Linked DNA regions of Homo sapiens. The protein of the gene in region 1 purifies or fractionates together with the protein of each later gene. This does not show direct contact. Each region holds a gene or a part of one and is shown in the gene's direction. Other genes may lie near its edges. The genes, in order: FAM118B and DECR1.

What was found.
Region 2: the proteins of FAM118B (region 1) and DECR1 purify together in Homo sapiens (affinity purification with mass spectrometry; 2 studies listed by BioGRID and IntAct, with this or other methods). This does not show direct contact.

Annotation. Positions count from the first base shown.
Region 1 is NC_000011.10:126,242,015-126,257,850, forward strand, and holds part of FAM118B (protein FAM118B), read left to right. Parts: intron 1-8,491; coding exon 8,492-8,719; intron 8,720-12,244; coding exon of another isoform or gene 12,245-12,290; coding exon 12,291-12,419; intron 12,420-13,136; exon of another isoform or gene 13,137-14,552; coding exon 14,553-14,838; coding exon of another isoform or gene 14,839-14,856; intron 14,857-15,836. UniProt on the Homo sapiens protein: May play a role in Cajal bodies formation.
Region 2 is NC_000008.11:90,000,617-90,016,452, forward strand, and holds the start of DECR1 (2,4-dienoyl-CoA reductase [(3E)-enoyl-CoA-producing], mitochondrial isoform 1 precursor), read left to right. Parts: upstream 1-860; 5' UTR 861-876; coding exon 877-945; exon of another isoform or gene 946-4,753; intron 4,754-4,831; exon of another isoform or gene 4,832-5,619; coding exon of another isoform or gene 5,620-5,661; intron 5,662-14,924; exon of another isoform or gene 14,925-15,008; coding exon of another isoform or gene 15,009-15,050; intron 15,051-15,836. UniProt on the Homo sapiens protein: Auxiliary enzyme of beta-oxidation. It participates in the metabolism of unsaturated fatty enoyl-CoA esters having double bonds in both even- and odd-numbered positions in mitochondria.

The DNA of each region.
Region 1 (15,836 bases):
ACTCCGTCTCAAAAAAAAAAAAAAAAAAAGGAATTAATGGGGTTTTAAAGAGTTCATGGAATCTCCATACACTTTATAAAAATTAAAAATGGATCAAAGACCTAAATATGATACCTAAAACTGTAAAACTCTTAGAAGAAAATACAGATTTAAAATTTCATGACTGGATCTGGCAGTGGTTTTTTAGACATGACACCAAAAATGCAAAAAACTAAAGTAAAAAAAAATATAGATAAACTGGACTTCTCCAAAGTTAAAAACTGTTAGGCTGAAAGGACACTGTCAAGAAAGTGAGCCGGGGATGGTGGCTCATGCCTATAATCCCAGAACTTTGGGAGGCCAAGGCAGGAGAACTGCTTGAGGGCATGAGTTCAAGACCAGCCTGGACAACATAGTGAGACCCTGTCTCTACCAAAAGAAAAAAAAAAGTGAAAAGACAGCTTCCAGAATGAGAAAATGTTAGCAAATCACATATCTCATAGGCGTATAATATCCAGAATCTATAAAGAACTACTGTAACTTAATAAAGGCTAATAATTCAATTTTAAAATAACGATGTAGTTGAATAGACATTTCTCCAAAGAAGATACACAAACGGCCAATAAGTGCATACGAAAAGATGTTCAGCGTCATTAGTCATTAGGAAAATACAAATCAAAACCACAACAAGGTGCCATTTCACACCCGCTGGCATGACTAGAATCAAGAAGACAATAATAAGTGTTATTAAGGATGTGGAGAAATTGGAACCTTTGTGGGAATGTAAAGTGATGCAGTTGCTTTGGAAAACAGATTGGCAGTTCCTCAAAAAGTTGAACAGTGATTCTATGAACCAGCAACTGCACTCATAAGTATATACCTAAGCGAATGGAAAGCATATTCATGCAGCAACTGTACACTCATGTTCATAGCAACGTTATTCATAATAGCCAAAATAGTGGAAACAACTCAAATGTCTAGTTCATGAATGGAGAAACAAAATGTCTGTCCATGCAATGTTAATTGGCCATTAAAAGGAATGAAGTGCTCGTCCCATACAACAACATGGATGAACCTTGAAAACATTAAGTAAAAGAAGCCAGACACAAAAGGACATATATTGTATGATTCCATTCATATAAAATGTCCAGAACAGGCAAATCCATAGAACAGAAAGTAGATTATTGCTTGACAGGGCTAGAGGAAATTCTTCCCAAACTATGCTAAAAAATAGAGTAGGAGGGAGTACTTCCAACTCATTGTATGAGGCCCATATTATCCTGATAACAAAACCAAACAAAAGACATCAGAAGAAATGAAAATGACTAAACACAGTGGTTCAGGCCTGTAAGCCCAACGCTTTGGAAGGATGAGGCACAAGCATCACTTGGGCCCTGGAGTTCAAGACTCCACTGAGCTGTGATCGTGCTACTGCACTGCAGTCTCGGTGACAGAGCAAGACCCTGTCTGCCTCTAAAAAAAAAAAAGGAAAACTACAAACCAGCCAGGATCTCTTAGGAACATGGACACAAAAATCCTCAACAAAGTACAACCAGACTGAATGCAGTACCCATGAGGAAGTCAGAGTCTTCTGGGGAATGAAAGGTTGGTTTAACATCTGCATATCAGGCCAGGTGCGGTGGCTCACACCTGTAATCCTAGCACTTTGGGAAGCCAAGGTGGGCAGATCACTTGAGGTCAGGAGTTCGAGATCAGCCGGACCAACATGGCAAAACCCTGTCTCTACTAAAAATACAAAAATTAGCTGGGCATGGTAGTGCATGCCTGTAATCCCAGCTACCCAGGAGGCTGAGGCAGGAGAATTGCTGGAACCCGGGAGGCAGGGGCTGCAGTGAGCCAAGATCGCACCACTGCACTACAGCCTGGACGACAGAGCAAGACTCCGTCTCAAAAAAAAAAAAAAAAGTCTGCATATCAATATAATGCATCATATCAATAGGATAAAAGACAAAACCACATGATTTTCTCAGTAGGTGCAGAAAAAACATGTTAGCAAAATGCAACACTCTTTCATGATTTTTTTTAAAAAAGCCACACTCTACAAATGAAGGAATAATAGCAAACAATAGAAGGTAACTACCTCAACACGATAAAGACCGTATATGAAAAACTCACAGTTAACATATTTAATGGTGAAAGACTGGATTTTTTCCACTAAGATCAGCAGCAAGACAAGGCTGTTTTCCCACTCCACTCCTGTCCAACATGGTGCTGGATGTTCTAGACCGGGCAGTTAAGCAAGAAAACTAAAGGAATCCATATTGGAAAGGAAGAAGTAAACTGCCTCTGTTTGCAGATGTGATGATCTAGTCTATAGAAGATCCTAGGTTATCCTCTATTAGAACTAACAAGCTTAGCAAGGTTGGAGAATCCGGGATCAATATATAAAAATAGTATTTTTATACACTTGCAGTGAACAATACTAAAATGAAATATTAAAAATTCTTCCACTTGGCATCAAAAATAGTAAAATAGCTAGGAATAAATTTAACGAAAGAAGTACAGAAGGCTAGGCGTGGTGGCCCATGCCTGTTGTCTCAGCGCTTTGGGAGGCCGAGGTGGGCGGATCACCTGAGGTCGGGAGGTAGAGACCAGCCTGGCCAACATGGTGAAACCCCGTCTCTACTAAAAATACAAAAATTAGCTGAGCATGATGGCGGGTGCCTATAATCCCAGCTACTCGGGAGGTGGAGGCAGGAGAATCACTTGAACCTGGGAGCAGAGGTTGCAGCGAGCCAGGATCCCTCCACTGCACTCCAGCCTGGGCAACAAGAGCGAAACTCCATCTCAAAAAATAAATAAATAAGTGGAGAACTTATGCTTTGAAAACTACAAAACACTGAAAGAAATGAAAGAAGATCTAAATAAATGGAAAGACATGCCATGTTCCTGAATCAGAAGACTTAATATTATTAAGATGGAATACTCTGCAAATTGGTCTACAGATTAAGCATGGTCCCTATTAGGATCCAGCTGCTGATTTTGTAGAAATTGACAAACTGATTTAAAATTCATATGGGGCCAGGCACCATGGCATGCACCTGTAGTCCCATCTACTTGGGAGGCTGAGGCAGGAGGATTGCTGGAGGGCTTGAGCCCAGGAGTTCTGGGCTCCCAGGAGCAGGGGACCACCAGGTTGCCTAAAGAGGGGTGAACAAACACAGATTGGAAATGGAGCAGGTCAAAACTCTCATGCTGATCAGTAGTGGGATTGCGTCTGAATAGCCACTGCACTCTAGCCTGGGCAACATAGTGAGACCCTGTCTCTAAAAAAAAAAATTAAAACTTCATATGAAATTACAAGGGACCTAGGGTAGCCAAGACCGTCTTGAAAAAGAACAAAGTAGGGAGACTCAAATTTTTTTTTCTTTCAAAGCTTACTACAGAGCCACAGTAACTAAGGCAGCATGGCAAAGGATTCTCAGATCAGACACTGAAGGCACCAGCAACAGAAGAAAACTAGATAAATTGGACATGATGAGACTTTGAAACGGAAGTGCTGTAATGGTTGTCATCAAGAAAGTGAAAACAGAGCCAGGCACAGTGGCTTGTACCTGTAATCCCAACTACTTGGGAGGCTGAGGTAGGAGGATCATTTGATCCCAGGAGTTCGAGGCTGCAATCAGCTATGATCATGTCATTGTACCTCAGCCTGGGCAACATAGTGAGACCCTCGGCTCTAAAAAAGAAAAAAAAATGAGGCCGAGCGCAGTGGCTAACTCCTGTAATCCCAGCAATTTGGGTGGCCAAGGCAGGCGGATCACCTGAGGTCGGAAGTTCGAGACCAGCCTGGCCAACATGGTGAAACCCCATCTCTAATAAAAATACATAATTAGCTGGGCGTGGTGGCGCATGCCTGTAGTCACAGCTACTGGGGAGGCTGAGGCAGGAGAATTGCTTGAACCCGGGAGGCGGAGGTTGCAGTGAGCCGAGATAGCGCCATTGCACTCCAGCCTGGGCAACAGGTACGAGACTCCGTCCCAAAAAAAAAAAAAAGAAAGAAAGAAAGAAAAGAGAACCCACAGAATGGAGGAAATTATTTGTAGATCATATTTGACAAAAATCTAGTATCCAGAATATATAAAGAACTATTACAACTTAATAATAAAAATGATATATTTAGGGGAAATTTAAACACTAATATTAAGACATTAATATTTTTTAGGTGAGATAGAAGTATTGCGATTATGTTTTTGTTTTGTATGTACTTTTCTGACTTTTGTGTGTGTTTGGAAATGTCCATATTAGAAAAGAATCAAATCTAACAGTATCAACTCAGCAGTACTATGGCAGGGTTAACAGGCCTATCTACCGAGCCAGTTTAATGTATACTGGGGAAGTGACATTACAGATTCACTGCAAAGAGCTTAGGTTTTGGAATCAGACTCTGCCACTTAAATGCACTGGAACCCTGCACAAATCCCTTAACTTGTCAACATCTGTTTTTGCACCTGTGAAACTGGGATATTACTTCCTTGTGTCGCTTTGTGAAGAATAGGTGAGATAATGTGTATAAAATGTCTGGCACATAGTTGATGCACTAGAAATGTTAATAACCCTGGGGCGGGAGGCGGTGGGGGAACAGGTTTTTTTTCTTTCTTTTTTTAAATAGAAATGGGGTCTCCCTGTGTTGCCCAGGCTGGTGTTGAACTCCTGGGCTCAAGTGATCTTCCTGTTTCAGCTTCCCAAAAACTGAGATTACAGGCTTGAGCTACCATGCCAATTTTTTGTTTCTTGTTTTTACTAAGTTTCAGGGTAGAAGGAAATGAAGGTCACTGTTTTAGATGAATGGGAAAAGGCCCTTAGAAGTTGTGTGGGAGTTTGGCATTTCCTTCTGACTACTGAGCCTCCCTGTTTATGTTTTCATTCCTTTGTCTTTGCTTATAAAGGCCACTGGTGGCAAATTTAGTTCTAGGGTCATCTGCTTTAAGAGAAAAAAACTTTCCAGCCTGGGAAACAAAGCGGGACCCCCTATCTCTACACAAATTTTAAAATTAGCCTAGTGTGGTGGTACACGCCTGTGGTCCCACCTACACAGGAGGCTGAGGCAAGAGGATCACTTGAGGCCAGAAGTTTGAGAACAGCTTGGGCAACATAGTGAGACCCTGTCTGTACGAAAAATTTAAAAAGTAGTCGGCGTGGTGGTGTGCGCCTGTAGTCCTAGCCACTTGGGAGACTGAGGCAGGAAGATTGCTTGAGCCCAGCAGGTCAAGGCTGCAATGAGCCACGTTCATGCCACTGTACTCCAGCTTGGTGACAGAGCCAGACTTTCTCTCAAAAAAAGAGACAAACTTCCATTTTGAATCTTGAGGAAATCAATGCAGTTGCAGAATCATATTTCCTTCCTATGTTGATATGTAGGATTTAGTAGCTTAAATAGGTCTAAAAGATACTTAATTAAAATAAGTGACCTGGATTTTTTTCCCCCCAGGTTTTAACCTTTTCTATTCTTTTTCTTAGAAGCAAGAAAATATGTTCCACACCCATGATTATGTGATTGTATACCCAGGCCTTTTTATCGGTGTGTGTAATAATAAAACTGGTGTTAAAATGTAGTACGTATTTGCCAGCGCGGTGGCTCACGCCTGCAATCCCAACACTTTGGGAGGCCGAGGCGGGCAGATCACAAGGTCAGAAGTTCAAGACCAGCCTAGCCAACATGGTGAAACCCATCTCTACTAAAAACACAAAAAATTAGCCTGGCGTGGTGGCAGGCACCTGTAATCCCAGCTACTCGGGAGGCTGAGGCAGGGGAATTGCTTGAACCCAGGAGGCGGAGGTTGCAGTGAGCTGAGACCACGCCACTGCACTCCAGCCTGGGTGACAGATCGAGACTCCATCTCAAAAAAAAAATATATATATATATCTATATATATATATAGATATACGTATATCTATATAGATACGTATATCTATATATATATTTTTGTACTCTGACTCACAGACACACACTATCAATACATTATATATATTGTATATATATATACAAGGCGTGGTGGCACGCACCTGTAGTCCCAGCTACTCGGGAGGATGAATCAGGAGAATCACCTGAACCAGAGAGGCAGAGGTTGCAGTGAGCCAAAATCACGCCATTGCACTCCAGGCTGGGCAACAGAGCAAGACTCTGTCTCAAGAAAAATAAAAATAAATAAAAAATAAAATAAAATAATGATGCAGTGATAACCTCATATGTGTCATTTCATTTGTTTGAAATTGTATTTGTAGGATACATGTGACTGCTAGATCATAGGGCAAATGGATTTGTGATTTGGGTAGACAAGAAAAGAGCACCATATTTTTTATAACAAATCTAAAAAAGTATCTGACCTTCAATAGTAGTTGACTTTTTTTTTTTTTTTTTTTTTTTTTTTTTGAGATGGAGTTTCGCTCTTGTTGCCCAGGCTGGAGTGCAATGGTGCGATCTTGGCTCACTACAACCTCTGCCTCCCGGATTCAAGCGATTCTCCTGCCTCAGCCTCCCGAGTAGCTGGCACTACAGGCACCACCACCACGCCCAGCTAATTTTTTTATTTTTAGTAGAGAGATGGGGTTTCACCATGTTGGCCAGGATGGTCTCGATCTCTTGACCTCGTGATCCACCCGCCTTGGCCTCCCAAAGTGCTGGGATTACAGGCGTGAGCCAGCACGCCCGGCCCAGACTCGCTTTTATAACTGACACACTTAGGATAACAAATCTACTCCTGCAATAATGACATTAATCAATTCATGGAGGCACGGCCCTCGTGACTTAATCACGTCTTACTAGGTCTCGCCTCCCAACACAGTTCCGTTGGGGTTAAGTTTCCAACACATGAACGTTAGGGGACCAGTCCAAACCCTAGCAAATGGCATTTCACAGACAGGCTAGGGATCAGATATTACATCACATTACATAGTTACTTTCCCATTTCAAATTCCCTTCGTCCCAAGAGCCACTTTGTCTTTTCAGTTGTAAAGCCAGTTTCCCACCTGAAGTTGGTATTATAGTTCCTCATTAGTACTCAGGGATATTTACATGTATTCAAAATGAATCTGAAAAGCAGTTATTTAAGTAAGCCGTATGTTAAGAAGTAGGAGGTCTGGAAAAGTGGCTGATACCCATAATCCCAACACTTTGGGAGGCTGAGGTGGGAGGATCACTTGAGATCCCAGGAATTCAAGACCTACCTGGACAACATAGCCAGACCTCACATCTGCAAAACAAGACATTGGGATTCTGTTTAGAACTGATTGGTGTTTGATGTTTTCAACAGTTGCAAAATGCAAATTTTTAATTTAAAAAACGTATTAAATTGTTTACGTTAACCTTTTGTATACTGGATATTCTTCAGAATAAACCTATGAACTGCTGAATTATGGCATGTAGAAGTTAAGCAGTTTTTCCTAAATTCATAAACAGCTGTACAAACACCTAGGATTAGAAAAGGAGATGCTGAGGCTGGGTGTGGTAGCTCACACCTGTAATCCCAGCACTTTGGGAGGCTGAGGTGAGTGGATCACAAGGTCAGGAGTTCAAGACCAGCCTGGCCAAGATGGTGAAACCCCGTCTCTACTAAAAATACAAAAATTAGCTGAGCACAGTGGCAGGCGCCTGTAATCCCAGCTACTTGGGAAGCTGAGGCAGGAGAATTGCTTGAACCTGGCGGGGCGGAGGTTGCAGTGAGCCGAGATCACGCCACTGCACTCCAGCCTGGGTGACAGAATGAGACTCCGTCTCAAAAAAAAAAAAAAAAAAAAAAAGAAAAAGAAAAGGAGATGCCAAACCACAATTAGGGCTGTGTCTCAGTGGCGTTTCCCTACATAAGGCAAGATGAACGGAAAGTGTTGCCTTCTTACCTGGCACCTCATGAGAGGGTAGTTGTCGCTCTGCTTTGTACCCCAGCTTCCCTTTAATACCGACAGTAAATTCATATCCCTTGGCCAGGTTTATTTTCTTCATTCTATAAAAATGCCTATTTTAGGAAGCTTACGTATAGTAGCACTTGCTATCTGCTAAGCATTGTGCTAAGCACTTGGCATGTATCATCTCATCTTCCTTATTACGTTCGTATGAGATAGATAATATTTTATCCCCGGGATTTTTTTTTTTTTTTTTGAGATGGAGTCTCGCTCCGTCGCCCAGGCTGGAGTGCAGTGACGCGATCTCGGCTCACTGCAAGCTCCGCCTCCTGGGTTCACACCATTCTCCTGCCTCAGCCTCCCAAGTAGCTGGGACTACAGGCGCCTGTCACCACGCCCTGCTAATTTTTTTTATTTTTAGTAGAGACGGGGTTTCACCGTGTTAGCCAGGATGGTCTCGATCTCCTGACCTCGTGATCCGCCCGCCTCGGTCTCCCAAAGTGCTGGGATTACAGGCGTGAGCCACTGCGCCTGGCCTTTATCTCTGTTTTGAATTCAAAATATTCTTCCAAAATTTGTTACTGCTGTAACTAAAACAACTGACCTACCAAAGCACTTTGGACTAATTTTCTTTTTTCAAATCCCTCCTCAGCGTACCAGTAATGTTCGATCCACATTTTTCAAGGACTGTTTATATGAAGTATTTGATGACTTGGAGTCAAAGATGGAAGATTCTGGAAAACAGCTACTTCAGTCAGTTCTCCACCTGATGGAAAATGGAGCCCTCGTATTAACTACAAATTTTGATAATCTCTTGGAACTGTATGCAGCAGATCAGGGGAAACAGCTTGAATCCCTTGACCTTACTGATGAGAAAAAGGTAAAAAGTAAAGCATTGGTCCCTTCTTCAGGCTAGTGGATTTTATCTTCCTCAGAAAAGCTCTTTTCTAGTTGGTATATTGGTATTTATGTAGAGCTAGAAAGGAAAAATTTTTTCCCTGGTTGGAGTTTTTGTTTTTCTTTTTTCTTTCTTTTTAAAGATCAAATCAATATACAGTAAAATGCATAGAACTTAAAAGTGTTCAGTTCTATGACTCTTGACAATTTCATCCAGTTTTAAAGCAAGATTAGAGGAAGTCACTTGAACTGTAAGATCTCTTTAGCACTTGACAGTATTCAGTGGTGTAATATTGATAATGCTGGTTCTATTTTAGGATACCTTTTTTTATGGCATCTATTGGAAATGTATGAAAACTACTTTATACTGATTGGAAGAACAACTTCCAGGCCAAGCGATGGCTGAATTGAGGTTAATGTTTAGTGGAAACCTCAGCAGACTTTGTTTTAGCATAGTCTATACTGTACCTACCATAATTATTGAATTATAGATGTTGATCTGTGTCAGCTAATGAGATGAGTTCTTAAAGTCTCATTGGTCCTACTCTGTGATTTTTGTAATGTTTTTTCCTACACTTTGTTTTCCTCAGGAATCTGCCTTTATGTCCAATTTAGAGCCCAACTAAGTAGAGTTGAATAGACAAGTGATTTGCCTGCTGGCATTCAGTACTACAGTATTGCCCCTGCCAGAGTGGTAGCTGAAATACCACTCTTGTGGTTTTGCTGACCTTGATGGCAGGATTTAAAGGGAATTGAATTTAGAGAAAAGCTGCCCCATGAAGACTAGTTTTCTCTGGTCCAAGTGTCTTCCGCCTACGCCCTCATATTCTGTATGGTCAGCTCCTTCTTCATTTATAACTCTCAACCTAGGGATCCCCTCCTGAGAGACCTTCTCTGACCATCCTATTTAAATTGGATACTTATTTTTTTTATCCAGTCTCTTGTCCGTTTCCTTTGTAGCACTTAGTATTAACTTGCAGCTTTTTTTTTTTTTTTTTGAGAGACAGTTTCGCTCTTGTTGCCCTGGGTTCAAGTGATTCTCCTGCCTCACCCTCCTGAGTAGCTGGGATTACAGGCATGTGCCACAACGCCCGGCTAATTTTGTATTTTTGGTAGAGACGGGGTTTCTCCATGTTGGTCAGGCTAGTCTCAAACTCCTGACCTCAGGTGATCTGCTAACCTCAGCCTCCCAAAGTACTGGGATTACAGGCATGTGCCTGGCCGTTTTGTTTTGTTTTGTTTTGTTTTGTTTTGAGATGGAGTTTTGCTCTTGTCGCCCAGGCTGAAGTGCAATGGCATGATCTCAGCTCACTGCAACCTCCTCCTCCTGGGTTCAAGCGATTCTCCTGCCTCAGCGTCCCGAATAGCTGGGATTACAGGCACCCGCCATCACGTCTGGCTAATTTTTGTATTTTCAGTAGAGACAGGGTTTCACCATGTTGGCCAGGCTGGTCTCGAACTCCTGACCTCAGGTGATCTGCCCACCTTAGCCTCCCAAAGTGCTGGGATTACAGGCATGAGCCACCACACCCAGCACAGTTTTTATCTTGGCTGTTTATCTGTTTTCTGACTGTTTACCCCATAGGAATAGTAACTTCACTTGGATAGGTATCATGTTAGTCTTTCTTACCCTCATAACTCAAATACAACCCTCATGTCTCAAATATGACAGTTAGGTGCTTGGTAAATATTTTTTTGATTAATAAATGATTGGGCTGGGCACAGCAGCTCAGGCCTGTAACCCCAGCACTTTGGGAAGCTGAGGCGGGAGGATCACTTGAGCCTAGTTCAAGACCAACCTGGGCATCATAGCAAGACCCCATCTCTACAAAAAGTTTAAAAATTAGCCGGGCATGGTGGTGTTTGCCTGTGGTCCCAGCTACTTGGGAGGCTGAAGCAGGACGATCGATTGAGCTGAGGCAGTCGAGGCTACAGTGAGTTGTGATCACACTGTTGCACTCCAGCCTGGGTGACAGCATAAGATCATGTCTCTAAATAAATAGGCTGGGCACAGTGGTTCACGTCTGTAATCCCAGCATTTTGGGTGGCCGAGGTGGGTGGATCACTTGAGGTCAGGATTTTGAGACCAGCCTGTCCAACATGGTGAAACCCCGTCTTTACTAAGAATACAAAAACTAGCTGGGAGTGGTGGTGCACGCCTGTAATCCCAGTTACTTGGGAGGCTGAGGCAGGAGAATCATTTGAACCCAGGAGGCAGAGGTTTCAGTGAGCCAAGATTGCGCCACTGTGCTCCAATCTGGGCAACAGACCAAGACTCTGTCTAAAAACAAACAAACAAATGATTGAAATTTTAAAACTAGCAGCTTCTATGCTATTTGTGATAAAATTTCCAAAGATTATGACCAAGTGTGTTCATGGATATCAGAAGCATAAGGACCTTTTAAAAGCTGAGGATATCTATCACATTTGATGTTTTCCTTCTCATTTCATCCTTGGGCCTCAAGATTTGCATTGTATTTTCAGCCCACATTAGGGGCAGTGTTGCAGTCTAATGGTTAAAGACATTGACTGGTAGTCAGAATGGGGCCTAGTAACATTCAAATTCTAAATCTCGGTGCCTCTTGACTACTTTCCTGATTCATAGCCTATTTCTCCAAAATGTGATAAGAATAAATGTATGCTGTCTCCAGTCCTTGGGAAAATGGAGCCATGGAATCAGGTGGCTATTGCATTCGCTGTTGTCTAAATGATTGTTCTTCGCTGGCAGCCTTTTAGGTTCCTCAGAGGTGACTGAAGTGATTTTTCTATCACTTATCTATTGCTGTACAAGTAATGGCCGTGAAACTTTGTGGCTTGTAACAACAAATATCTTATCTGCCCATGATAAAGTATATTAACAATTTGAACTGGGCTCAGTGACTCAGCCAGGCATTTTTTCTGCTGATTTTTGCACCCTCTTCACATACCTGCAGACATCTGATGGCCGCACCAGGGCTGAGTGATATAAGGGGACCATACTTCCCTGCAAGCAATTGGCCAGGCCATATATGTCCCAGCAGGCTAGCCCAGGCTTCTTCACTTTCTTCGCATGGCAGCTGGATTCCAAAAGTAACACAAGAGAAGTAAGACTTCTTGTGCCAACACTTTTCAAGCTTCTGCTTGTGTGTGTTTGCTAGTATCCCATTGGCTAAAAGCAAGCCATGTGGTTAGCCTGGAGTCACTCCGAAGAGGGGCCACACAAGGGCCTGGATACAGAGGCTTGATTTCTTGGGGCGATCACTGAAGCAGTTGTCCATAGCTCTCATGCATGCCACCAGTGCAAAGGGTCCCTGTTGTTTCTGCAAATTATGACAAATTGTGATTTTTGATGCTTACTTTCAAAGAGAAATCACCAAATTTGTTGCCATCATTCTTGACAGTCATTCCTGAAGTGGAAACTTAGACCACATCAGGTTTTGCATTCTTGTCCTATATCATGAAGCTAGAGAGTTTATGTCAGAAGTCTAGTCCTCAAAACAGCCTCTTGCCCATTGTGACCTTTAAACAGGTGCTCAGCCCTGCCAAGCTGGTTGGGCTATATGTGTGTTGTGCAGGTCCTCGAGTGGGCTCAGGAGAAGCGTAAGCTGAGCGTGTTGCATATTCACGGAGTCTACACCAACCCTAGTGGCATTGTCCTTCATCCGGCTGGATATCAGAACGTGCTCAGGAACACTGAAGTCATGGTGAGTGGGGCTGATCTTGCTGGTCTCAGGAACTCCTTCCTGGGAAATCTCTCTAAATATGCCATAGATCTTAAAGGGGAACATCTTCTTTTCATTAAGTGAAAACGGAAGGTCAGGGGCTAGGAGCAGTGGCTCATGCCTATAATCCCAACACTTTGGGAGGCCAAGGGGAGAGGATCACCTGAGGCCAGGAGTTCGAGACCAGCCTGGGCAACATAGCGAGACTCTTGTCTTTACAAAAATAAAATTAGCTAGGCATCATGGTGCATGCTGTCCCAGCTACTTGGGAGGCTGAGGCAGGAAGATTAGTTGAGACTAGGAATATAAGGCTGTAGTGAGCTGTGTCTAGAGCCACTGCACTCCAGCTTGGGTGACAGAGCAAGGCCCTATCTCTAAAAAAAGAAAGAAACTGGAAAGTCAGACGTTCTTCCTGTGCTTCTTAACTTATGGGTGTGCATGCTGTCTAGGAAATGTAGAATTTCTCTTAAGGTGTCAAACCCTATGATCTTTGTTTGTACTTAATTGACAACCAGCAGATGGCATGTCATCATTGGCATCATCTTCACATACAAAGGATACATTAGTACCCTTTATCATCATTTGGTTTATTAATAGCCCTCTCTGTGTCAGAAATAATTGAGGCAGCTTCTTAACAAACCAACCACTACTAGAGAATACATTCTAAAGAGACTTTGTATAAATGGCAATGGGCTTATATTGAATTAACCACATTTATTCACACTTACTCTTTGTGAAAAGCTTATTGATCTTTTGGGATGCACATTTTCGACTTGTTCAGATAAACATGTTCAAACCAGAAGTATTCGCTGCCCCCAGCTCTAAGAATCTTGTTTGCTGTTTTCAGGACTGGGTCATATAGATTATAGCATCTTTTAATAATGAGGCAAAAGACCGAGAAAATGTATTGTCTAAAGCACAAGGGACTTTTTTTTCTTTTTACCCATTCTTTCCCAACATCTGCCATAACTGCATCCATCTCTGACATTGAGTGATCCCTTAGGCAGTCATTTCTGTGTTTTTGTGTGTGTATATGTATACACACACACACACATACTGATGTTCTAAGTATCAAACGCCTTTCCTTGAGCAAATCCGATGATGGAATTATCTTCTCTGGTGATTCACAGTTCAGTTTGTGAGACAAAGGCAAATATGGTCCAGAAATGGAAGGATTAAGATATATGAAGACCTACTCTTTGCACAATGACCTCTGGGCACATAAATCTAAAAAAGTACGCCTGTAATCCCAACACTTTGGGAGGCTGAGGCAGGCAGATCACATGAGGTCAGGAGTTCCAGACCAGCCTGGCCAACATGGTGAAACCCTGTCTCTACTAAAAATAGGAAAATTAGCTGGGCGTGCTGGCAGGTGCCTGTAATGCCAGCTACTTGGGAGTCTGAGGCAGGAGAATCGCTTGAACCTGGGAGGCAGAGGAGGTTGCAGTGAGCCAAGACCATGCCACTGCACTCCAGCCTAGGTGGCAGAGCAAGACTCTGTCTCAAAAATAAAATAAAAATAAAAAAGTAAACTACTGGCCAAGTGCAGTGGCTCACGCCTGTAATCCCAGCACTTTGGGAGGCCAAGGTGGGTGGATCACTCGAGGTCGGGAGTACCAGACCAGCCTGGCCAACATGGCAAAACCCCGTCTCTACTAAACATTCAAAAATTAGCTGGGTGTGGTGGTGCACACTTGTAATATACTCGGGAGGCTGAGGCATGAGAGTCACTTGAACCAGGGTGGTGGAGGTTGCAGTAAGCCGAGGTCACACCACTACACTCTAGCCCAGGTGAAAGAGTGAGACTCCGTCTCAAAAAATATATAAAGCATAAAAAATAAAGAAGTAAACTACTGCACCAGTACACTGACACCAGCTCTATGAAACGCTGATTAGAGAGCCTACAGAAGAATGGCAGGTAAAGATAAAATTTTAGACCAATCATCAAGTTACAGCAATAAGCAAGAGATCACACTCCTTGATGGGACATACCAACCCACTTAAGTCTTGCTTAATTGGTCATCACAGTCTGCTCAACGTAGCATGACCTTCTTGTTTCAGACTTGCCTTGAGTGTGTCTTCACAATGTCAATATGTTGTATCTTTTCCTTCCAGAGAGAAATTCAGAAACTCTACGAAAACAAGTCATTTCTTTTCCTGGGCTGTGGCTGGACTGTGGATGACACCACTTTCCAGGCCCTTTTCTTGGAGGCTGTCAAGCATAAATCTGACCTAGAACATTTCATGCTGGTTCGGAGAGGAGACGTAGATGAGTTCAAAAAGCTTCGAGAAAACATGCTGGACAAGGGGATTAAAGTCATCTCCTATGGAGATGACTATGCCGATCTTCCAGAATATTTCAAGCGACTGACATGTGAGATCTCCACAAGGGGTACATCAGGTAAGATGCATTTTGAAGCTGAGGGGAATCAGAGAACAACAGCTCTTCAGCCTTTTGTGTATTTGTGATGTGATGGGCAAAATAGTTGCCAAGATGAGGAATGTAATGACTGACCAAATTGTAAAGGAGGCCACAGTCTTCAGGTTAGACTAAAGTGCCACTTGGATTATGGGAAGACAGACAAAAAGGAATACTTGAGCAGTTCAATATAGACATAGGAAGAATGAAGAAAACAGATGTTCAGCCTCACTAGTTATCAATGAAATGCAGTTTGAATTTAGATTACAAAATAGCGAAGAAAGATCACCCAATTTTGGCTAAGGCTGTGAGAAAATAAATTTATTCATGGAGTATTTGTGGAAAGGTAAAGTTAGTACAACTTTTATGACCATAAATTAGAAGATGTAACAAAAATTTTCAAATCTTTGACCTAGAAATCCCATCAAAACAATTTATCCTAGAAGTTTCTCATAAGGAGATAATTGGATGATTGCACAATCACACAATTGTACAAAGATGCATGCGTGGGAATGTAATTTCCATTGAATGTAGTGGCAAAAAATTGGAAGGATCCTAAAATTGGTGGAGATTCTACAGATATGCCAATATTTATTTAATTGATGAAATACAATGAAACCATAGAAGGGAAAGTGTTTTCATTGCCATAAAAAAAAAAGTTAGAGACATATGAGTAAAGGAAGAAAAAGCAGGTTGTAAATACCATGGTCAGCTATATTCATATAGAATTGTACATTTTTTTTTTTTTTTTGGTGCGTGTAGAAATGTATCTGGAATGTTTACTAAATTAAGTGGCTATCTTTAGTAGGATTTAAAGTGTTGATTTTTTGGTTTCTGTATTGGCATTTTCTATGATGATTATGTATTATATTTACAAACAGAAAACTTACTTTTAGAAATGCTATTTGGAAACGGATAATGGTGATATTCAAGTCAGAGGATAGGGGTATCATACACTTGATATTTTACCTCCACATTCT
Region 2 (15,836 bases), on another chromosome or scaffold:
TGTACATTCCTCTGAAGATATAAATGTTTCTTTATCAGCATTTGGAACATGCCAGGCAAATAGTAAACACTCAATATCATCTACCATCAGCCTCAGCCTGGGGCCTCACACCCATCTTCTTTTATCTAAAATTCTGAATTAGCTATGAATATTCTCATTTTACGAATGAGGAAAGAAATGTGATCTGAGCTAATGCCTTGTGTCAACAGGTATATTACACTAAGATGGAGAATGATATACTGAATCTGTGTTTGCCTTTAACGTGTGTTTAACTTCGAGAAAAAAGCCAAGGCTGGGCGGTCGCAGTCACGCTGCATCCGGCGACAGGGGGCGGTGTGTCCTGCGAAAAGTCAAAACGCCGGAAGCTGCCCTTAGTGTTTTTCAGCCTCTTGGTCTTAGGGAAAGTGAGGCCGTGTTTTACATCCAACATATTATTATTCTGATAATATGTGACTTGGCGCCACGCGCACTCTGCACTTAAACACGCACTTAAGGGATAAACACATACGACTGAAAAAGAGTTTCGCCCTTGATAGGCAGTGTATGGGGTGCGCAGCTGCAATCTGCAAACCCTTGCAGGGCGCGGGGTTTCGTACACCCGCTCAAGGACGCAAAGAACCTCCATTCTCTGCCATACAAAGCACTCCTGGCCCAGAGAGCAGGAAAGAGCATCAGCTAGGCCCAGCTAGGCGGCGCCCTCGGCCGGACTCTGAAGGTCAGGGCCGCTGGGCGTCCACGCCGCCTGGGTCCCAGTCCCCGTCCCATCCCCCGGCGGCCTAGGCAGCGTTTCCAGCCCCGAGAACTTTGTTCTTTTTGTCCCGCCCCCTGCGCCCAACCGCCTGCGCCGCCTTCCGGCCCGAGTTCTGGAGACTCAACATGAAGCTACCGGCCAGGGTTTTCTTTACTCTGGGGTCCCGGCTGCCCTGTGGCCTCGCTCCTCGGAGGGTAAGGCGGCCGGGGGCGCGGGGAGCGAGGACAGGGCGTCTCGACGCGCAAAGAGAGAGGACAGGGCGTCACGGGGGCTCGGGGAGCGAGGACAAGGCATCCTGGGGCGCAAAGAGAGAGGACAGGGCGTCCCGGGGGTTCGGGGAGCGAGGACAGGGCATCCCGAGGCGCAGAGAGAGAGAGGACAGGGCGTCCCGGGGCCTCGGGGAGCGAGGACAGGGTGTCCCGGGGCTCAAAGAGAGAGGACAGGGCGTTCTGGAGCGCTAAGAGAGCACAGAGCAACCCGGGGAGCGAGAGAGAGGACAGGACGTCTCGGGGCGCAAGAGAAAGGGCAGGAAGTCTTGGGGCACAAAGAGAGGACCCGGCGTCCCTGGGGCTCAGGGAGCTAGGACAGGGCGTTTTGGGGCGCAGAGAGAGAGGACCACCAGGTCCCGGAGCGAAGGGCAACGCCGGGAGTGAGCACCGGGGCCCGGGTCGTATTCCACTGTCAGATGAAGCCCTGATGTGTGTAGGGGAATAGGGAAGAGACGTGATTTTCGAAGTTTTCACAGTTCTGCAAGTTTCCAACTTGTGTGTAAATAGGTAGAAAGAGGTAGGGAAGGATACGGCGCCCGTCCACCCCTTAAGGAGTGAGAGGGGATCAGGCCGAGCGAGCACTGACCTTTGACGTCCTTTGTTGTGAGGAAAGTCCATCTATGTGTTAGTTATGGAATTAAACACTAATACAAACAAATTATCATAAAAATGAAACAAAAACAAAACCCCAGCTGTTTATAGACTCCCCTTCCCAGATGTATAGCTGGGAGAGGTCCGTCTCACACTGGCTTCCCCCTCTCTCTGGCCCACACTCCTGTCACCATCTCCATTGCACCCATAGTGGAAATAGCTAGGAAGTGAAAACAGCTAGGAAGAAGAAAGAGAAACAAAAACAAAAAGAAGCAATAATATCCAAGACAAGCCCTCCCCACATCTAAATTACAAAATTGTTATAAGTAAACTAAAAAGCACATTTTCTTTAGCCAGGTAGAAAAATTAATATGTCAACTGTGAAAAAACTTCTTTTGATTTGATAGAATAGACAGCCATGGTGTTGTTTTTCAAAAAATATGGGCAGCAGTAGTTCCAAATAGGAATACAAAGAATTAGTATGGTGGTTCCCTCAAGTAAGGTATCTTTCTTTTAAAAAGTGAGATTTGTTCAGGGTTAGGGTTTTGCTGATTTTTTTTCTCTCCCTGTGAAAACTGGGTTATAGATCATTATAAAGGAAGCCCATATTTTCTGATACTTTTCAGAGACATTTCTCATTTGAAATCTACAACAGCTCTGTGATGTCTTCAGAGATTTCATTTTTTAACACACATCATTAGGATTGTAGCAATAAGGTCATACAGACCTTATCCAAGCTCTTCTGACACCATTAGACAATACAGTTTGAGAAGGAGAAAATGAACTCATTTAAAAATTAATTGTAATCTGACAATTTTGAAATTCCTTTGCTGAAGAAAAATATGGAAGTTTTGAGGTTCAGGGTTGGGAGGCAAGAGAGGTACCTGTTAGTGTGGTTTGTCCCCTTCCTAGCACATGTAGCCTCAAGTTTGAATTCCTGGGAGAAGAAAAGTCTTTACATCTGTGATGTGGGAGGTTGTTCCAGGGAACATCATGTTTTTGTGGGCAAATACAAGTTGTTATAATTAAAACCCCTAATTTGAATATTTTTGTTACCAAGAACCAAGGCAAATGTTTAATTTGTTATAAAACCTGTTTGTGAAGTGCTGTGTTAAATTGTGCTGCTGGCTAATAGGCCTCATTTCAATTTAATAAATATTTATTGAGGACTGGCTTTATGTCTGGCCCTGTGCTATGCCCTGGGACTCAAAATTTAAAAAATACGAGCCCTGCTCTCAACTGTTCTCAAGTTGCTCTCAGTTCTATTGAGGAAAACATTCAGTCATTCAGTTGTTTATGAGGAAACACTAATTAATTAAGTACCTATTAAGTATTGGGCATTCTTTGGCAATTTGTGGTTGAAAGACATTCCTGCCTTCAATGTACTATAGTCTCATATATGTATTTTAAGCCACAAATAATAACCAATGAGTAGGCCTTGAAATCAATTTAGTGGAGCAAAACAGCACTTTGGGAGGCTGAGGCGGGTGGATCATTAGATCAAGAGATCAAGACTATCCTGGCCAACATGGTGAAACCCTGTCTCTAGTAAAAATACAAAAATTACTGGGTGTGGTTTCACACGCCTGTAGTCCCAGCTACTTGGGAGGCTGAGGCAGGAGAATCGCTTTAACCTGGGAGGCAGAGGTTGCAGTGAGCTGAGGTCGCGCCACTGTAGTCCAACCTGGCGATAGAGTGAGTGAGACTCCATCTCAAAAACAAAAAAATGGAATAGAATAGGATATATCTAAATTCATCTCATGTAGTAAGGTTGTTCATTTTGTGAAACTTTAAAAAAAAAATTTACCATTCTTCCTTTTTTGATTCATTCTTTGATTACTATCATGCACACTGCCATGTTTCTTTTCCTTTTGTTTTTATCAAGAGTAATAACTATCCAACCTGATCAACATGGTGAAACCCTGTCTCTACTGAAAATATAAAAATTAGCCGGGCGTGGTGGCGCGTGCCTGTAATCCCAGCTACTCAGGAGGCTGAGGCAGGAGCTACTCAGGAGGCTGAGGCAGGAGAATCACTTGAACCTAGGAGGCAGAGGTTGCAGTGAGCCAAGATCACGCCATTGCACTCCAGCCTGGGCAACAAAGTGAGATTCTATCTCAAAAAGAAAAAAAAAAAAAAGAATAGTAACTATCAAGAGTAAAATCACTATTTTTAGAAAAATGATTCCTGGCCAATATTCAGCAATACAGTTAACAAAGTAAGATATGACCTCAAACTGGCCACCTAGAATTAACTTGGGTTAGCATTTGGTGTATATCATTCCAGGCATCTGTTCTGGTAAAAGGATGGATAGGCATAATTTTACTTGGATGTCACATTTTCCCTTAGTCAACATTGTTTCATTGTTTTCTCACGATGAATATTGTCTTGGAGCAGTATAAAACCAACTAGATGTGTTTTCTTTATTTTTTTTAAATCTGGAAGCCTAAGTATTTCTTTATTCAGTGTAAAATTCTGGAATATAAGCTCTATGCAGGCAAAGATTTTCAACTGTTTTGTCCACTGTTTATACCTAGAACAGTGCTTAGCATAGAGTAAACATGTAACAAATATCTGTTACATGAATGAACGTGTGTACTGTGTTGCTATGAACATGTGTATGTTGCTATATAAATCACATTTCTTGCTATGGTTCACAGTCAGAAAAATCTGAAAAATGATAGTCTAGTGAGTCACCAGCAGACATCAATAGACTGTGAAGATGCAGATGTGTATTATAATGCATATATGACCCAAACTGTACATACCTAGAGGAGGCAAGGAAAGCTTCATGGAGGAGGTGGCCCCAGGAGCCTGCTGTTAAATCAGGAGTTGGAATTTGTGTGGTCCCAATGGCAATATAGACCTAAGGAATAGCATGTATCAAGAAGTGAAAGAGTGGCTTATTTATAAAAATTCAAGTGGTTTGTTTGGTATTGTGGAGTTGGTGAAGTATGGGAACAGAGAGAAGCGTGTGGAGACGAGATCAGTCAGGTTGCTGGGGGACAGGGTATGGTGGGCTTTTCTTATTTATGTAGAAAATTGAGCATTTACTATTTGCTAGGCACCTTACTAGGGATATGAAGGTGAGAAGAAGAGCTGATTCCTGCTGTCAAGAAGCATAGAGTCCAATGGCATTATGGTATGATGTGCCGCATGTTAGGTTGGGTGTTCTTGCTTTTGGATGGGATCCCAAATAAATAGCATCCGTTTTTTCCAGTCTGAAAAATGAGTAAAGATGGAAGCCAAAGTATCACTTTTATTGTGGTTTGTGAGAGGAAGCTGGGCCTATCAGCTGGATCTCCCGAAGTAGGCGGACTTACATAACTCTGGAGGAGGGCAGAACATTGTCCTCTGAAGGCAGCTGGCTCCCAAAAGGAAGAAGACCAAGGAGAACTGTTCATACCCAACGATCCTGTCAAAATTTACCAGTCATATCAACTGTCTCTGCACAGACAGATTGTACCTCAGTCTGTGTTGCTATAAAGGAATACCTGAGGCTGGGTAATTTATAAAGAAAAGGGTTTGTTTGACTCATGATTCTGATGCCTGGACAAGTTCAAGACTGGGCATCTGCATCTGGTGACGGCCTAAGGCTGCTTGCACTTGTGGCAGAAGGTGAAGGGGAGCTGGAGTTTGCAGAGATGGAAGTGAGGGGGTGTTGGGAGGTGCCGGCAAGAGAGGAAGTGAGAGGGTGTTGGGAGGTGCCGGCAAGAGAGGAAGTGAGAGGGTGTTGGGAGGTGCCAGGTTCTTTCACAACCTGCTTTAGTGGGAACTAATAGAGTGCAAACTCACTTGCCACTGCCAGGATGAAGATGGTACTACGACATTCATGATGGATCTGCCACCATAACCCAGGCACCTCCCATTAGACCCCACCTCCAACATTGGGGATCACATTTCAACATGAGTTTTCAAGGGACAAACATCCAAACATCCTTAGCAGGTTGACTAAGGGGACAGAAAGAAGCCTGGAGTTGTACTACCTGAACTTCTCACAGTAGGGAGATGTCAGGACTGGGGAAGAAGCATCTCCTGCTCATGGGGGAGGTATGTCCAGTTTTATGAGAGTGTTGTTGTTTGGTATATATCAAAGCTGAGACCTGAAAGATGAGTAGGAGTTAGCCAAAGGGAGAGATGTAAGAATGTTTTAAACAGGAGAGTAGTCTATGTGAAGGCCCAGCATAAAGGTTATCAACAGAGAGTGGGGAGGCAGGAGGTGAGAGACAGCTTAGTGAGCAGCCTGTTGGCTGCGTTAAAGAGTTAGAACTTTGTCCTGCAGGGTGGGAGTGGAGACAAATGGCTAAACCCTGAGTAATCCTCTCATCTGTTGAGAGGTGATGGTGGCCTCAACGAGGGCATGCATTGGGTTTGGAGACACTCAAAGTTGAGTGATATTTAGGAGGTAAAATCAGAGGCCTTGGTGATTGGTTGGTGGTGAGGATGAGAGATGGGGCTATGCTCAGTGGTGACATGTTGCCATCAAAATTGTGAGCAGAAATACGATATCATCAGGTAAGACTGGAAGTAGGGAGACCAAACATCCAAACACCAGTGATGAGGGTCTGAACTGAGGATAGCATTAGAGCTACTGGGGACTAAAACGAACTGGGCTTGGTTTGAATGTATGGGGTAAGATGAAGCCCAGATTTCTGTCTTTGGCCCCTGAGCTAAGGACAGTGCCACTCTCTTGAGTGAGGACATTAAGTGGGGGCTGGAGGGAGAAGAGGAGTAAGTGACATCAGTCCTGAAATGTCAGTAGGGTCTGGGACTCCTCAAGTGGTATATAGATAAATAAGCTACAGAAGTAGAGGAGAGAATGTTAATTCTCCCTGGGAGTGTTAGGGAAAGCACCAGAGCTCTCACAGCTGGGTTTCAATGATGAATGTTGGGTGATGATAGGGAGCAATTTGTGTAAAGACAGGAAAGTAGGAAAGAGTTCATGTTTGGGGAATCCTGAGTACTTTGTTTTCCTGAGTGTAAATTTCAGGGGAGATGAGGCAGAAGAGAGGGACAGGAGCTAGGTCGTGAAGACATATGCTATGGGGAGCGAAGGAATCTGGATATTCTGCAGCTACCAGGAGCCCTTAGAAGATCTTAAGAAGAGAAGTAACATGATCCCATTAGCAGTCCTCGGAAGATCAGTTAAAAGATGACACAGAATAGGCCCCCAATGTTTGTGAATGTTGTGAGATAGGGGTTTGAAATCAGGTGGTGGATATAGAGGGACACTGGGGAGGTAAAAGGCATGGGGCTTATAGACGGATGGGATGTATCAGGTGAAGAGGAGAGGGAGTCACCAAGGTGGGGCAGGGCAGGGCAGGTGGTGGGGGTGGGGTTAATGGATGAATCTTGGCCTTGTAGCTTAAGGATGCATTTGAAGAAATTTCAAACAAACTTCCTGCCCAAACTACAAAGCAAACTTTATATTATTACAAAAAATAATCTAGATCTCAGATATCTCCCAAAGGTCATGATAATGACATCAAAAGAGGGGGGAATTTTAAAGTTATCCAGAGTTTCTTACAGCCCATGGTAGAAAGCATGCAATAGATGTTTAGCAACTTTTAGTTTTTGCAGAAAATTCTAGGTAGAAAATGATCAGCATTCTCAGCTGTCCTGCGCTCTTCTCTTCCTAAGTTGATGAATCATTCTGAGATTGAAGTGCCAGGGTAATGATAAGTAAGTCTAGAATACAAGGTCAACTGCACTTTTATCCCTTCCAGTCTGGGAAACCCTCACACTGCATTGTAACATAAAAGCAGTGATAGAACTGTAGGCTTTCATAATTGCTGGAATGATGAAATGATGTTGCCATTTACCTTTAGCCCTAATTTATTCTTCATGCTTCAAAACCATATTTCCTACTGCAGCTTAGATATCTCTACCTGACTATTCCAGAAGCATCCCAAGTGCAGCATTTCTGATGCAGAACTCATTATCCTCAATGCTCCAACTTGGTCTTCTCATGTCAACCCAGTCATTTCAGTCAGAGCATCACTCTGCATGCAGCCACTTAAAACTAGAACTCAGTTACCTTCCACAGCTCTCACCTTACTTGCCAGGTCTGGCTGGTTGGGTTCTGGGTTCAGGCTAATTTACATGTTAAATGTGTGTGGAATATGTTGTCTTCTCTTAATTTCTACTGCCCTCGGTATCTCTCATGTACACTTAATGACTTCTGTCTGATGAGTCTCCATTTCCTTTTTTCTGGCTCACATTTAAATCTTAATTTTTCTAGAACACAAAGGCAGTGCAGATGTAACAGGGATATTGAGGTAAAGATGAGAGAGGTAGAAAAATCTCTCTCAGTTCTTTTCAGTAAACAGGAGACCTGTTTATATGCTGTTAATGAAACAGGCAAAAATGTGATGAAATAGATCAAGAACAAAAGTCCAAGCTCATGTTGTTGGGCAAGAGGCAAGAAGAAATCATGGATCTAGTGGATATCTTAAATATCCTGACTTGATCATTACACATTCTATGCATGGAATAAAATATCACATGTACCCCATAAATAGGTTAAAATGTTATGTATTAATAAAACATTAAGAAAAAGAAGAAATAATTGGACCAGGCGATATTAGGTACAGTGGTGACTCATTACGTCCTCATTTTTTGGGACCTTTGCTCTTGCAAGTAGTTTTATTTGCTAACTTCCCACCAGTTCACATGATAGCATCCTGGGCTAAGCATCACCATCTCTTGCCTGGCTTGTTATACAAGTGTCCTAATAGTTTCCCTGCTTCCAACCTTGCCCTCTACACTCCATGGCAGCCAGAACAATCCCCTTAAAACTTAAGGCAGATCATGTCCATTCTCTCCTTAAAACTTAGAAGATGTTTCCCACTTGCCTCAGAGTAAAAGCCTAAGTCTCCGTAGTGGCTGACTCAGCCTGCATGGTCCAGTCCCCTTTACCTCACTGACCTCTTCTCCTGCCCCTGTCTCCCTCCTTCCTTCTTCTCCAGCCACACTGGCTTCCTGACTGTTACCCCATCCATAAGCATGCCCCCTGCTTAGGGCCTTTGCTCCCAATCCCTTTTGCCTAAAACCCTGTGATTCATTCTTCTCCTTCACGTCTTTGCTCCAATGTCACCTTCTCAATGAGGCCTTTGCTGATGACTCTATTTAAAGTAGCAATGCTCTATCCCTATTCTCTGCCTTATTTTTTCCCCACACTACATATCAACTTTTAATATACTACATATTTAACTTAATTTCTTTATCCCTCATTCCCCCAAGGATAATCTTGCTGAGAATAGAATATTGTGTCTGTTTTTTTTTTTTACTGCCGTACTGCCATGCCTAGAACAGTGCCTGGGGCTTAATATATGCTCAATAAACACTTGCTTAAAATGAATAAATGAATAAACTCTATATCCATCATAATGTCATGTTTATCCCTAATACTTTTTTATGTAAGCAAATTCCCAAAACAAACTCTTTGCAAGAGCAGAGATTCTAATTTTTGGTTTAAAAAAGATTGTCATTATAGTTTTGGTTAACATGATAGGGGATCAATAAGAGATGACTCAAATCAGAGGCAGGCAGGAGTGAAGACCCTAGCTGAAAATTTCAAATTGCCTCTTAGGTCTGTGATTTCATCTCTTTTTATTTTGTTGTATTGGAGAAGCATCTGTTCAGTCTGCATCTAACTGCAGACAGATAACCACTGTAATAAAATGAGATGTACACCCTATGGCATAGAGCACCGACATTTTCAAGGACTCATGTTCACTGATACAAAATGTATCATTCCTCAAAAATGTAATTTCTGTCTTGCTCCTGGCAACTGCATAATTCAGCTTAGCCATTGGAGCTTGGAGTCCAGCTGGGCAGTTTCTTTTATATTTGTTTAGCCTTACCTTCAGGTTGCTGTGGCAACAAGATCTGTGCTCTGCGGAAGCTGAGAATATCAGTGGCCTCTGTTCAGTGCCCTGCTATAAGTTAAGGAGCAGGCAGATGTGCTTAAGCAATCTACACAGTCATGGAGCATGAGTTAACGAGGCCTGTGGCAAGCTTTTGGTGTGGTACTCAGTTATTTTAATGTCTGCAGGGCAACTGTTGGCATTTGGGGTGAGACAGTTCTTCATTCTGCAAGGCTGTCCTTTTCTGCACTGGAACATCCAGTAGAACATCCCACCAAACTATCCCTTGTATTACCAGATACCTCCAGCTAAGGACCACATACACTGTGCTGAAGTGGCAGTGGTGTGGCCATTGGAAAGAATGCACGCATGGCCTTCTAGCAATCGGACAAAATAAATTGGGAAGTAGTTATGGAAGGCTTCCTGTATTCAGGGAGTACATAAGGTGTTTTGGGAATGCAAAGATGTACACTTTTGAAACTCATCCTTTGAAAAATATGGTTGTCCAGTGTTTACCACGCTGATAGTTTAATATGGCAGTTAGGGCCCAGTCTGCAAAACTCTTATGTGAATTCCAGTTGGAGTAAATTTGATCTAAAAAATATTGATTCAACCTGAACCAACAGATACGTAGAAGCTCCAAGAAAATAGATGTGGAAATATTTCATTATCTTTATAAATATAGCTCACACTTTAGTGTTTAATATAGAGTAGTTATGCTTCAAGTAAGGTATATGTCCTTATCATGAAATTGATTCTAGGCCATTTTTTTTCTTGCTCTGTTTTCCTCTACGTACTTCTTGTATTGTGTGCTTGCCTATATGATTCAGTTTTCTGTTAGCTATTGTTAAAGAAAAAAAATTTATGAACATGTTGAACATTCAAGCAATATAAAAGGATATGCAGTGACAGTGTAATAAGGTTATTATTACTATGGTTATTACTATGAATAGGTTCTTGTGGATACTTCTGACAGTTTTTGTGCATATGTCAACATATGTATGAAGATATCCTCATTTTAAAAAACCACATGAAGGGGAGCCTGTTACATGTATTTCTCTACCTTGAGTTTTACACTTAACACATAGTGTCTCACATTGTTGGTATCCAACAAATACTTATTGAATAATTAAAAAATAATACATCTATAGCAATGTTTACAGTCAGCATATACATTCCAGCTCCTTCTTTTGGTAGATAATAGATCCATATAACTGTATTTTGTAATATAGATGTGCTCTAATTCATTGGCTATGTCCCCTAAGGAAACACACATAGATTGTTTTGTAGTCTTTCTATTACAAACAATTCTTTAATGAATCTCTTTGGCTATTTTGAGTCTCTTGCATTTTCAAAACAATTTTAGGATAAGCTTGTCGACGTTCACAAAAAGCTGATTAGGATTTTGATAGGGATTTTGTTGAATCTGTATATCAATTTAGGAAGTGTTGTCCTCTTAACAAAATTAAGCTTTCCAGTCCATGAACATATAATGTCTTTTTGTTTACTTAGGTCTTTAATTTCTTAATGATGTTTCATAGTTTTCAATTTATAAGTCTTGTACTTCTTTTATTAAATGTATTAGTATTCTTTTCAATATGATTATAAACAGAATTGTTTTCTTAATTTCATTTTCATCTTAATGTATATCTTTGATCATAGCTCCTTCTCCCCCTGCTTCTTTCCCAAATGAATGAGTATTTCTTTTAGATAAATTCCTGCATGTGGATTTGCTGGGTCAAAGAGTATTTGTATCTAACATTTAAAAAAATGTTGCCAGATTGGCCTCCTAAGAAGTTGCCAGAATTCTTATCAACAGATTGTAAGGGTGGCTTTAATCAACTGTTTCTTGTATTATAGATGATAAAATTTTGAACCTTGCTGGTCTGGTAAGAGAAAAATTATGTCTCCTTTTGTTTAAATATGCTTATTTAGTTATAAATATGGTCGTATATTTGTTTTTTGTTTGTGTGGAGTACCTTTCTAAGCCCTTTGCTTAGTTTTTCTATTTGCAAGTAACTCAGTACTTGTATAGATTGATTTAGATTTTCTTTTCTTTTCTTTTTTTTTTTTTTAAGAGGGAGTCTTGTTCCGTTGCCCAGGCTGGAGTGTGGTGGCACGATCTTGGCTCACTGCAACCTCCGCCATCTGGGTTCAAGAAATTCTCCTGCCTCAGCCTCTCGAATAGCTGGGACTACAGGCGCATGCCACCACGCCCGGCTAATTTTTGTATTTTTAGTAGAGATGGGGTTTCACCATGTTGGCCAGGTTGGTCTCGAACTCCTGATCTCAGGTGGTCCACCTGCCTCGGCCTCCCAAAGTGCTGGGATTACAGGTGTTAGCTACCGTGCCCGGCCTGATGATTTAGATTTTCTATTCTTGGGCTTATTCTAATGTTTAAGATGTCATAATTTAGGGTCATTGGAAATGACTAATTTTTTAAAACAAGTGGCAAAAGCTGGATTTCAATCATATATTCACATAAGACTACATGTCTGTATCCATGTGCTTTCTAATGCAATTGGAGTCTGGCCAACCAAGTGTTACATTAAGTAAGACAAGCATTTACCGAATGCCTAACTGGTGCCAGAAACTGTACTATAGTGATGAATATAAGGTCGTGTCCCTGGCTTCCTAAGCATCCTGATATGTTGAAATGAATTGTGGCAACTCCTTAGCAGGCCAATTTGGAAGCCTTCCATTTGCCTGTTTTTAATAGGGTACAATTTAAAGTGTTGACAGAGATATTGACAATGTTGTCTGGTTTTGAAGGCCAATTCTGCTGGGTTGAGAAAGACAGTGGGTGGTTCAGGCCAATGAGAAAGCAGGAGCAAAGGCCAGAAGGTGAAAGTAGTTGGCAAGTTTTTGGAATTGTGAGGGCTTGGTAAGTGTAGAGTTTACTTCTACATGGCAGATCAGTCACGAGGTGGGGCTAGGAAAGTATTAATACGTTGGCACCATATTGTCCAGTGGCTTGAATGCCATGCTCAAGAGTTTGATTTTTGTCTTTTTGACTTTGGAAGGCATCCATGTTTTTGAGGAATGGAATTTTAATGTGGAGGACCCATCCATAGTGATGATGATGACGACGATGATAAATAGCTAAACTAAGTGCTCAAAAGATAACTCATTTAGCCTTACAACTTCCATATGAGAGACTATTATTGTATGAGTTTTATATATTTGAAACTGGATCTTCTTAATAATGTACCTAGCACACACATTAAACAATGATTTTTGTAGAAATTTGTTTTAAATGAAATTTAGTTGTGGTTCCAAAATAAAAGCCTTGCCTCTTCTTTCGTTTTTTTTTTTTTTTTTTTTTTTGTATTGGTTTCTTGTGTGTTACTTACAATAGGCATCTAGGAGTCACATACTCAGAGGCCTAAAGTCCTTGAAGGCCTTGTTTATGAAAGGCCACCCAGTGAAAAGGGCTCACTTTTCCTGTGTGAGTCGGGGCTGGACAGAGCTCAGGCCTTGTCTCAAGGGGGCAGTCGTAGTTGTACTTAATCATGTGGTAAGGTGTACCCAAGTGTTGGTAGAGCTTCTGACTTTTATGTGAATTCTTCCATTATCTAAATGTTGGCTCAAGTTTTAAAAACTTTGGGCTCAAGTTTTAAAAACATATTTGGCCTAGAATCACTAATCTACTGTTATTTGAGATATTTACCCTAGACATTTTAGACTAGCCAAAATATACTTAAGTAATTTAGGTATATATCTCATTGATATACAGTCCTTATCCTTGAGGGGAAGGTGCAGTGTCAACTCTCAGAACTGCCATTTTGAAGATTAAAAGTATGATCATGTCTCATTAGTTTAGATGCTGTAATTTTGGAATACATGAAGGAGGAAGCTATTGTTTATATGATGTAGGAGAGGGATGAGTATGGTGAGGAAGGTAGGTGATAGCTAATTTTTTGAGGGAGAGATTTAGAGCTTGTAACTAAAAAATAATTCTGTATTGCCAAAGTTGGAAGACTCTAGAAAGTTTTAAGAATTTTAGGTCACTAAAGATCTCAAGAGAAATCAATCTTGATACGAAAGGTGTTATTTATATTTTTGAAAAAAACTTATTTCTCTAAAAACCATAAAGCAAGACTTGAAAATCTTTAAAAGCCTGTTTTGTATCTACTTTTTATAATTCAAAAAAGCCCAACCAAAATACTGTTTAAGGTTATTAAGGATGCTTCCTTGTAGAAACGGGATTGAATATGATGTGATCCTGTGAGATCTGATCATCTCAATGGGTCTTAAGGTTGAAATGAACATCTTCCTTTTAGGCAGAGAAGATGGCTTGAATTTATATTAACACATATGCTGTGTATTGTCAGAGGGTAATGAGAATTAAAATAGCTTATCAATTTCTTCACTTTGGTTTGGTGAGGAAGTGGAATCATAAGGTTAGTATTGATCAGATCATATAAGATAAAAATGTGCTATGTAATAACCTGTTACATTATGGACACTAGGAATTATTTTTACCACATGTGACATTTTTACCTTTATATCCTTTTCTCTACCAGTGAGGAGGTTGAGGAAATGTTTTAAAATAAATTTAAAAAGAAAGTTTGTATGCAAATATCTTGTTTAATTATTTTCATGAAGTCCCACATCAAATCCCCTATACACATTAACATTAAAAAGTTAAAAATTATGGGAAAGCCTTCAGAAAATTAGAATACATTTTTTTCATTATTATTACTTAATGACAAATTTACCATTCTACTTGAGTGAACTTCTTGATTCATCATCTTAATGTAATAGTTCTGAAGGCAGGTGGCAGCTTTAAGGAAAACTGCCACTTATGTAGAAAAAGATTATTGTAGAGTTGCTTGGATTACTGTGCTTTGGCAAAAGGATATGAAAAGAAAATGCTTTGTCAACATGAAGCTAAAATAAATATGATGACTGGCATGGAGCATAACAAGATTTACAAATGTATCTTCAATTATTTTATACATGATCTCAAATTTTGTCTTTCAGTAACTTTTTTTCTGCTTGTAAAGATCTAATCATACTTATTGGATAGATTTGGAAAGTACTAAAAACCAATCAAACAAACAAACAAAAAAAAACAAATAATTATCTATAATCTCATCACTTAACCATAACTGTAAAGTAATGGGTGGACTCTGAAGTCAGACAGATACTGGATTTAAGTCTTTATTCCCTATTATTATTTATCTTTAACAGCTAGCTACTTGACCTTTCTGTGCTTCAGTTTTTTTCATCTATAAAATAGAAGTAACAATTGAATTTACCTTATAGAGCTGTTTTGAGGACTGTATGGTAAATATTGAATCTACTACTTACTGTTGTTATTTCCTTCTAGTCTTTTTTTCTAAGCATATATTTTTATTTGTAGTTAAAAACATACTGTATATTTGTTTCTTTTTTTTCATTTAACATCACATTATAAACATTTTCTTGTGCAATTTCCAGGTGATGAACAGCCTCCTTCTAAATCATTGACCACATTTCTTATTCTTTCCTGAGGATAAATTTCAAGATATCCTGAACCAACTGATGACAGCCTATTTAGCTACAGGAATACTCTGGAAGGAAATGGTAGCTTCTGGAGTTTTAACTGGAGTGTTAATCTTGCCACCATGACCTAATGGAATATCACATAACCTCCCTGGTGTGACCATTAAGCTTAGCAGGATCTCAGAGAATAGACAGAGGAATATGCAAGCTGGTTATCAGAGAAGGCTCTGGAGCCTGTCAGTCAGTTTGAACCTTGGTTCTGCAACTTTGGCAATATATATATTTTTTATCACTCTGAGCCCTTTCTGTACAATAGGATAAAACTAATACCTATTTCATGTGGTTGTTTGGAAGATTAAATAGTTTGATATGTAATCCTGGCAGGTGGTAACTACTTAATGAATGTTAGCTCCTATTGTTCATTATATTAGATACCTAAAGTTTGTTTTATGATTAAATGCGAGAGAATGGCAGTGATGTTCGCATGTAATGTGAGTACAAGCTGTTAACATATAAAATAGGGCAATACAAATATTTTTTACTCCGAAATGGATTGATTTTCCTCCCATTTAAAATAAATAACAGAAATATTCTGTTTTATGTTTTGTGGCCAGAAGCTAGCATGGGAAGAGGCATTTGATTTAATAATCCTTATAGAGAATTTTTAACAATTTTCTTCAGTAATTCAAAGGTGGAAAGTGATTTTTGTCCAGATTATTCTTGTTGAAAGACAAAAATGCTTTATGTTAGTTTTTTAAAAATTAAATTTGGTCGGGTGTGGTGGCTCATGCCTGTAATCCCAGCTCTTTGGGAGGCCGAGGTGGGCAGATCATGAGGTCAGGAGATCGAGACCATCCTAGCCAACAT